Linked DNA regions of Homo sapiens. The protein of the gene in region 1 purifies or fractionates together with the protein of each later gene. This does not show direct contact. Each region holds a gene or a part of one and is shown in the gene's direction. Other genes may lie near its edges.

Region 1 (4,482 bases):
AGAAGGTCCAGCTTTTGGATTCAATGAGTGGGAAATACATTGTGCCTTTCTCTAGATGTGATACGTTATACCAAAATCTTTGTAGTGTGCAGAGCGGTGGTTTGAGACTAAATACAGGCTTAGAACTTGCAGAGTGTGTATTCTTGGATGGCTGATGCATCGACTTGCATTCCCACTTAACACTTTGATTAGCATGAACTTGCCAATCAAAAAATGACAATCAATTTGAGAAAATAGAAATAGATATTTTTAAATAAAACCATTCACAGTTTACTTTGTCTTGATACCTTGGTTTGTCCCAGCTGAAGTGAAGCAAGAGAGTTTGAATTAATTTTTCCATTATAATGTTTTCGCATGTCTGCCTCTAAAACTGTGATTTTCAAGCTTTAGCGTGCATCAGAATCACCTGTAGGGCTTGTTAAAACACTAATTGCTGGGCCTCAACCCAAAAGCCCCCAAAGTGGCACTTCTGAGTTCCTGCTGATGTTACAAGGGACCACACTTTTGAGAATCTGTGCTTTAAGCTAAGGAAATATTGCCTGGTGGGTTGGCTGCCTGGTATTGGGCATGGAAATTTGAATTGCTGATTGGTAGATGGTGTGTCTGGACTTAACTCACGTAGTAAATACTGCTGATCAATACCTAATCATTCCACATTTATTGAGCTCCACCTGTGTGTATGTGTACCCAAGCACACATGTGTGAAGGGCTATAGCCAAAGTATTTTTACTAGCCTGTATGAAATCACTAGTCCTTATTTTTAAAGGTCTATGGTTTCTTGGAAGTAGTTTGATTGTTGAGAGAGACCTTTGATCTGCAGTGTAAATCTACCAGTCATGGGCCAGAAGGGCAAAAGCCCAGCTTTCTCTTTGGAAAGACTCAGGCTGTGGTTTGTTGATGGCCAGGTTTTCCTCAGGCTCCAACAACTGTGCTTATACCAAGCAGATCCTCATCCTCCATATAATCATCTTTGTTATTCGTGGGGGTTTAATTACATTACAAGTGGCCAAAACCCCTGTTCTCAGTGAAGAACCACATTGGATTTGTATTCTGTTCAGTTGTAGTCTACACTGCAGTCTTATTCCTGGTTCAAACTACCTCTTTAAATTGATTTGTCTTGTGCTGGTCTGTTAAATCCTGCCCTCCTTGGTGCTAGATCCAGTTGTGCCTCAGGGCAGAGGAAACAAAACACAGCTATCCTGTTGGCCTGTGTTGTGGTTTTGAAGTTTGTACTTTCTCTGTGGGTGCCAGTTAAATATTGGAGAGCAAGGAATGTGGACTTGTATGGCTTTGAACCAAGAGAGGGTTATGAGCCTACTGGATTGAGGTTAAAATCCAAGAACCAACATTTAGAGCTTTGTGCTTTTCTCTCATTCCATCACTTTGTAATGATGATACTTAACATGAGCAGGGTGAATGACAGGTACTGACGAAGTCCAACACAAAGGTATAATACAGCCTGTTGTCTAAAGCCAAGGAGTCATAAAACCATGAGAAATAAATAGGAATCAATAGTTAGTAGTGACATTGGTGCTCTCTAGAAATCTCAGCATGAGCTGCTATAGAATACCCTCCCAGCAACAAAACCTAATCAGTAAGGCCAGCTAGACCCAATGGCTCATGCCTGTAATCCCAACACTTTGGGAGGCCAAGGTGGGAGGATGGCTTGTGTCCAGAAGTTCGAGACCAGCCTGGACAACATAGTGAGATCCTATCTCTATAAAAAATCAAAAATTAGCCAGGCATGGTGGTGCATACCTATAGTCCTGGCTATTTGGGAGGCTGAGGCAGGAGGATTGCTTTAGCCCTGGAGGTCGAGGCTGCAGTAAGCCATGATTGCGCCACTGCACTCAGCCCGGGTGACAAAGCAAGACCCTGTCTCAGAAAAAAAGAAAATTCAAGGCCAGTTAAGACAAAATGCTATGACTTTGAAATTCACAGAAAGAAATAACAGTTTAGATTAGGTCTTCAGGTATTCAGGATAGAGATAATCTCCTGAAAAACCTGAATTTCAGAGATTCTTAGACTGGCTGCCAAAGGATGAAGCTAGTGAAGGAGAAAAAGCTTAAATTCCATCTTGAGCTCTTGGATTGTGATAATACAATGATTTCATTAACTTTTCATTTCTGTATACCTGTTCATTTGGAATTTAATGCTTGACTTCTTTGTTCATTTTGGATCTAAACTTCTCTTTTCTTCCTTCCCCATTCACATCTATTAGAAGACTGCATCACCATTTCTTTGGCCCCCTTACTCTGTTGTCCTTTCCCTTTTCTTTCAGTTTTTTTAATCGCATGTCTAGTATATTAAGTCTCCATAGCCCTCCTGATGCAGTAGACAGTGCTATGCTGTGGATATAATACCAACCAGAAATTGGCATTTATAAACCTGTTAAGAGACTTTAAGCATGCTTCAAGAGGCAGTTGACCCACTGGAATTTCTATAAGGCTGGTACCCTTCCCAGAGTTACAGAATCTTAGGTGCCGTCTCTAGTCTGTGAGGGAGGAACTCCCAGCATCCCCATTGCCCACAAATGGAATCCTCACTGTATCCACTAGGAGATTAGAAATTAAGGTTTCTTCACTACTTCTATGGTAGGGTTGTCTGAAATTCCCTTTCAGGCTGTGGGTACTGGTCTTGGGTTCTAGTCATAAGGGGTTCCTTATAAGGAGCAGGCGGAGGGGAGTACACTTTCATGTGATTTAATTTTGATCCTGCCCTCTCCAGCTGCTCCTTCAAAAGATACATCAAAAGATAGAAACTCTGGGCTGGGCACAGTGGCTCACACACTTTGGGAGGCCAAGCGGGGGTGCAGATCACCTGAGGTCAGGAGTTTGAGACCAGCCTGGCCAATGTGGTGAAACCCCATCTCTACTAAAAATACAAAAATTAGCTGGGCGTGGTGGTGCATGCCTGTAATCCCAGCTACTCGGGAGGCTGAGGCAGGAGAATCGCTTGAACCCAGGAGGCGGAGGTTGCAGTGAGCCAAGATGGCGCCATTGCACTCCAGCCTGGGCGACAAGAGCAAAACTCCGTCTCAAAAAAAAAAAAAAGATACAAAGTCTGCATTTGATATAATGCCTTAATTACTGGGTCTACAATTAATGTTGACTGTTTTAGATTGTAAGCTCCTGGAGAGCAGTATTGCTGTAGTAGGAATGTTTTAACAGTGTCATATGAAAAAGAACAAAATAAATATTTTGATTTTGTGATTCTATGCAAGTCTTTCTGCCCAGAGTGATAATGCAATAAGCTAGTCTTTTCATAGTCTGCATAGAGTCTGGCCATTACCATCAGTTTTTAAGATGTCCATATTGTGGCCGGGCGCGGTGGCTCACGCCTGGTAATCCCAGCACTTTGGGAGGCTGAGGCAGGTGGATCATGAGGTCAGGAGATCGAGACCATCCTGGCTAACACGGTGAAACCCGTCTCTACTAAAAAAAATATTAAAAAATTAGCCAGGCCTGGTGGTGGGCGCCTGTAGTCCCAGCTACTTGGGAGGCTGAGGCAGGAGAATGGTGTGAACCCGGAAGTCAGAGGTTGCAGTGAGCCAAGATTGCACCTGGGCAACACAGCGAGACTCCGTCTCAAAAAAAAAAAAAAAAAAAGATGTCCGTATTTTAGGTGGTATGATCCTTTTAGGTTTTCATCTCACTCTCCCCCTACTCGACTTAAAATGACATGCCTAGTACATGCCAGAAGATCCATGTGACCTTCTGCACAGGAGACAGGGTCTTCATGAAGCCACAAGTATTTCAGTATACTGAGGATTCCTCAGTTTAAAAGCCAACTTTTGTCACATCATAATCCCTTCCCTGTGTCTGCTGTTAGGCAAGAGGCTCTGAGCTGGGCCTATAAGAAGTTCACCGCCCAACCTTGAGATGCACAGTGACCCTGCCAGTCCCTTTGGTAATGCCAAAATGCTGACGTTACTTGCTCTTCCCACTGGCCCCCAGTGGGCATCTTGCCATCACCACCATTCCTAGTCTCTTCCGAGTGTAGTGTCATGAACATGGACTTAGAGGAGTCAATGAGTTTGGATTCTGGTTCCATCACCTACTAGCAGTATGACCTTAGGAAGTTAGTCTAATGATCCCTAAGCCTTAGTTTTCTTATTTAGAGATGGAGTCTCACTCCGTCACCTAGGCTGGAGTGCAGTGGTACAGTCTCGGCTCACTGCCACCTCCATCTCCTGGGTTCAAGTGATTCTCCTGCCTCAGCCTCCCAAGTAGCTGGGGCTACAGGCACACACCATCATGTCTGGCTAATTTTTGTATTTTTAGTAGAGATGAGTTTTTGCCATGTTGGCCAGGCTAGTCTTGAACTCCTGAGCTCAGGTGATCCGCCCGTCTCGGCCTCCCAAAGTGCTGGGATTGGGAAAGGTGTGAGCCACTGTGCCCGGCCATAATACCTGTTTGAATTAGGCACCTAGCACAAAATAGGTATTCGAGCCTTAGTATTTTTTTTATTATCTACAATTGT
Region 2 (5,257 bases), on another chromosome or scaffold:
AGGACGTGCTAGACGAATGACTAAGTTCTAAGCTGATGGTTCTGAGTTATTTGCTTGTTATTGACTGTAACAGATAAACCCTGTATGATTTGTTTTCTGAAAGTAAATGAGTCCTCACCCCAGGAGTCCGCTGGGGGAACCAGTGCCTCAGTCATTTCTCCCAGCCAGGCTATGTTAGCTGGAGGGCCAGGCAGAAACCGTCTCCAGGTGGCACCTCAGCGTCCTCATGCTGTGCTTCTCCTCATGTCCAAACCTTTTAGAGAAGGACATGTTGAATGTGTCATTGTAAAAGTAGGTCTCATTCTGAAACCTCTAATTAATATGCCAAAAAATATTTTGTTAAGCCTTTGAAATGGAATTTTTTCGTATGTGAAAAGAATGTAAATACATCTATATGTGCCAAGCATACGCACTGCACCTGCAGCTCCATATTTAAAAGGTGATGATATTCTTGTCTTTCAGATGCTTTGTTTGCAGGCAAAGCAAGCAGCAGCTGGAGGAGGAGCAGAAGAAAGCACTGTATGGTTTGGAAGCTGCGGGTAATTCCTAAAACACAGGCTCAGTGTTGTCACTGTGTGTGCTGGAGTGCGGGTTTCTGTCCTCTCTCAGGGCACTGCCTCTTCTCCCTGCCCACCTGTGCTTTTCCTTTTTCCTGTCTGGCACCAGGCATCCATTTCTTCTTAGCCCCAGGCAGCGTCAGGTCACTGTTACTTGCCGTGTGTGGCTGTGTGGAGCAGTGGGTTTTGTGAAAGGCCCCGTTACCCTTTCTGAAACGCTGTTGTGGTGCTGAGTCTGGACTCCTGTCCCAGGTGCTCTAGAATGTGGGGGCAGCAGATGTCCCATTGAGGGCTTGCTTGGTGACCACCTCAGGCCCTGGCAACCACACAGTCTCTGTCCAGCAGAGGCAGCCTAGGCAGTGTACAGTGAGTGGGTATGGCCATCTGCCGATGAAACTTTATTTATGGACACTGAAATTTAAGTTTCATAGAATTTCCACATGTCACAAAATATTATTATTTTGATTTTTTTCTCTTTCTCTTCTTTTTTTTTTTTTTTTTTTTGGATGGAGTTTCACTCTTGTCGCCCAGGCTAGAGTGCAGGGGCACAATATCAGCTCACTGCAACCTCCGCCTCCCGAGTTCAAGCGATTCTCCTCCCTCAGCCTCCCTAGTAGCTGGGACTACAGGCATGTGCCACCATGCCCAGCTAATCTTTGTATTTTTAGTAAAGATGGGGTTTCACCATGTTGGCCAGGCTGGTCTCAAACTCCTGACCTCAGGTGATCTGACTGCCTCAGCCTCCTAAAGTGCTGGGACCACAGGTCTGAGCCACCATGCCCAGTCAATAATATTTATTTATTTATTGGGACAGAGTCTTGTTCCATCACCCAGGCTGGATTGCAGTGGCGCGATCTCGGCTCACTGCAACCTCCACCTTCTGGGTTCAAGCGATTCTCCTTCCTTAGCCTCCTGAGTAGCTGGGATTACAGGCGCCTGCCGCCATACCTGGCTAATTTTTTTTTTTTTTTTTTTTTTTTTTAAGACAGAGTTTTACTCTTGTTGCCCAGTCTGGAGTGCAATGGCGCAATCTCAGCTCACTGCAACCTCTGCCTTCCGGGTTCAAGCAGTTCTCCTGCCTCAGCTTCCCCAGCAGCTGGGATTACAGGCATGCACCGCCACGCCTGGCTAATTTTTGTATTTTTAGTAGAGATGGTTTTCACCATGTTGGCCAGGCTGGTCTCGAACTCCTGACCTCAGGTGATCTGCCCGCCTCGGCCTCCCAAAGTGCTGGGATTACAGGCGTGAGCCACCGCGCCAGACCTTTTTCAAGGATTTAAAAACGTGAAAAGCATTCTTAGCTCTCAGGCCACACACAGACGGGCGGCGGGCCGGATCTGACACACAGCCTTGGTTTGCTGACCCTTGTTCTAAATTGTCCAAAAGTCACCAAGTGAGGAGAGGGACAACAGTCCTGCCTTCTGGGAGGTGATCCTTTGGGTACCACTTCCTGCGGGGAGCGGACAGTTCCGTGGTGGATGTTTTTGGTGTTGAGCTGAAGAGTCGATTGCATGAAGTGTCTGCTAAATGCATGAGCAGGTGAGAGCCCGAATGGCCTCCCACCGTCCTGGTGCAGGGCGCTGCCCGGCGCCATTGTAACTGTGACATCTCCGTGGTTCTTTGTGCTTCAGAGGACGTGGAGGAGTGGCAAGTCGTCTGTGGGAAGTTTCTGGCCATCAATGCCACAAACATGTCCTGTGCTTGTCGCCGGAGCCCCAGGGGCCTCTCCCCGGCTGCCCACTTGGGAGACGGGTCTTCTGACCTCATCCTCATCCGGAAATGCTCCAGGTTCAATTTTCTGAGATTTCTCATCAGGCACACCAACCAGCAGGACCAGGTAAGTGGGGTGCTCTTGCATGGAGCCTCCACTGGCGAGTAATTTATGTTCCAGCAGTCCCTGGTTTATGTGTTGTAGGAATTCATTATTTAATTCAAGGGAAGGAAGGGCAAACTTTTTTTTTTTTAATTTCACAAACTTTAAACTCCTGGTTACAACTACTCCTTGTAAAATATCATTTAAAACGATAAATTTTTGAGGCCAGATGCGGTGGCTCATGCCTGTAATCCCAGCACTTTGGGAGGCTGAGGCAGGCGGATCACCCGAGGTCAGGAGTTTGAGACCAGCCTGGGCAACATGGTGAAACCTCATCTCTACTAAAAATACAAAAAAGCCAGGCGTGGTGGCGTGCGCCTGTAATCCCAGCTACTCGGGAGGCTGAAGCATGAGAATCGCTTGAACCCAGGAGGTGGAGGCTACAGTGAGCTGAGATCACGCAACTGCACTCCAGCCTGGGTGACAGAGTGAGACTCCATCTCAAATATATGTGTGTGTGTGTGTGTGTGTGTGTGTGTATGTATGTATACATGTGTGTGTATGTGTATATATACATATATGTGTATATACATACACATACATACATATACACACATACATACATATACACACACATACATACATACATATACACACACATGTATTTGAGCACAGAAACTAAGAGGTATGAATCTTTATAATACAACTTCTTACCCGTTGTTTCTCTTCCTATTTAAAAACAGAACAAAGCGACACAGTAAAGATGTAAGTGGCCCTTGCAGGCCACTGAAAATAGACTCTTTAGGCTCCCAGAAATGGGTTCTGTTCGGACCCTTCTACCACATCTTTCTGTAGCCTATGCAGAGGAAGACCCGAGTCTAGTCATGTTGGGGGAAGCGGAACTTTTGGTCACAGTCTCCAAATTTAGTCACATTTCTTTTTTTACTTAAGTTCTATTTAAGATCTAGTCTAATGCTATTTTTATGTGGCTTTTTAAGTAGTGCTTGTTAAAAAGAGAATACAAAATTCTAATAATCACTGCTAATTATTTATCAGAATTCTGTAAAAAGCGTTCGTCATTGTAGATAAGCTGTGGTTTCTAAAAGCATTAGAAGTCATTTTGACAAGTGCCGCGGAAGGTGGGCACCGGGGAAGGTAGGCGCCGGGGAAGGTGGGCGCCGGGAAAGGTGGGTGCCAGGTTTCCCTTCATCTCTGAGCTGTCAGTTCAGCTGGAAAGGGAACTCCAGGGGCCTGCACAAGCAGTCGCATCCTCCGAGAAGGGCCGTGTGTGCACCCAGGCCTGACAGCGCTCGCTGTCAGGCCTGGGGTGTTCTGCTGCCCCACCCAGACGATGACGTTTAGAGCTGAATGGTCCCTCTCACTGTTTCTTGGTAGTTTGACTTCACTTTTGTTGAAGTTTATCGCGTCAAGAAATTCCAGTTTACGTCGAAGCACATGGAGGATGAGGACAGCGACCTCAAGGAGGGGGGGAAGAAGCGCTTTGGGCACATTTGCAGCAGCCACCCCTCCTGCTGCTGCACCGTCTCCAACAGCTCCTGGAACTGCGACGGGGAGGTCCTGCACAGCCCTGCCATCGAGGTCAGGTGCGTGCAGGGGTCCTCCAGCCACCAGCGCCATCCCCTTGAGCCCTGAGGTGTCTGTCACAAGCTGCCCCACCCAGGGTGGGGGGTTCCCTGGGGCTTTATAAACACAAAACGTAAGAATGTTTTATAAATGCACTTTTCTCTCCCTATGTCAAATATCGAATGAGATGCCGTTACCCACATTCTGGAAAGATGCCAGGGTGCCGAGTCCTCAGCATTTTGTTTTGCAGATAATTTTCATGGGTGTTTGAAGCTCCTCCATTTCATTCTTTTCCTCTTCCACACCCTGTGCTCCAGGCTGGCATTGGGCTCTTTGCCCTGGCATTCTCTCTCTCTTCTCCTAAATAATTCAAAAGGTGGGAGGCTGAGGCGGGCAGATCACTTGAGATCAGGAGTTCAAGACCAGCCTCGCCAACATGGTGAAACCCCGTCTCTACTAAAAATACAAAAAAAATTAGTCGGGTGTGATGGTGCATGCCTGTAATCCCAGCTACCCCGGAGGCTGAGGCAGGAGAGTCGCTTGAACCCAGGAGGCAGAAGTTGCAGTGAGCCGAGACCATGCCACTGCACTCCAGCCTTGGTGACAGAGCGAGACTCCATCTCAAAAAAATTTCAAAAGGCAAACAAAGGAAACCGCCTTTACAGGCAGTCCTTTGTCCACTGAATCCACCAGGGAACCGCTGGCCTCAAGGGCCACAGTCAATCACCAAGTGCAGGTGCTCCGTGCAGGGAGGGGCAGGAGGCAGCAGGGCTGGGAAGGGCACCCCGAGGATGGGAAGGAGAGGAGGAGCCCCAGAGGGACGCCCCGTGCTGGAGGCCACGCAGCCTAGGGGACGCGGGGAGGCAGGTGTGGCCACACACGGATGTTCGGTCTCCCTGGGGCAGGTGCCACACCCCTCCTCTGGCTGGCTGGGCGGAGGGTGGGAAGTGGTGTCCTCCCCACACCCACTGGGGCCCATTGTATTTGGAAGTCTGTGATGTATCACATAACCAGATGGAATCTGAGTGCAAAGAAAATTGTTTCTCCATGGAAAGACCCAGTAACAAGCAAGTTGATTTTTTCAAAAGGCCACTGAATTAGGTGTGGGCGTGCAAATTACATGAGACTGGGGAACGGTAGAGCTCAGGTGGATTCTGAACTCTTGGCAGATGTTGGTAAGAGCTCGGTCTACTTCAAGGAAGCCCAGCTTGACGCTCGTTAACAGAGTGTGGCTGGCGTGAGAGCGATAGCAGGCTGGTCAGCAGGCCCACGCCTGTCTGCAACGAAAGCTGGGTGTCAGATG

Evidence for each region. Proteins that work in one complex are often made in the same cells at the same time.
Region 2: the proteins of SLC31A1 (region 1) and CERK purify together in Homo sapiens (affinity purification with mass spectrometry; 2 studies listed by BioGRID and IntAct, with this or other methods). This does not show direct contact.

The regions. Positions count from the first base shown.
Region 1 is NC_000009.12:113,261,276-113,265,757, forward strand, and holds the end of SLC31A1 (high affinity copper uptake protein 1), read left to right. Parts: 3' UTR 1-3,217; downstream 3,218-4,482.
Region 2 is NC_000022.11:46,688,709-46,693,965, reverse strand, and holds part of CERK (ceramide kinase), read left to right. Parts: intron 1-462; coding exon 463-539; intron 540-2,188; coding exon 2,189-2,394; intron 2,395-3,765; coding exon 3,766-3,974; intron 3,975-5,257. UniProt on the Homo sapiens protein: Catalyzes specifically the phosphorylation of ceramide to form ceramide 1-phosphate.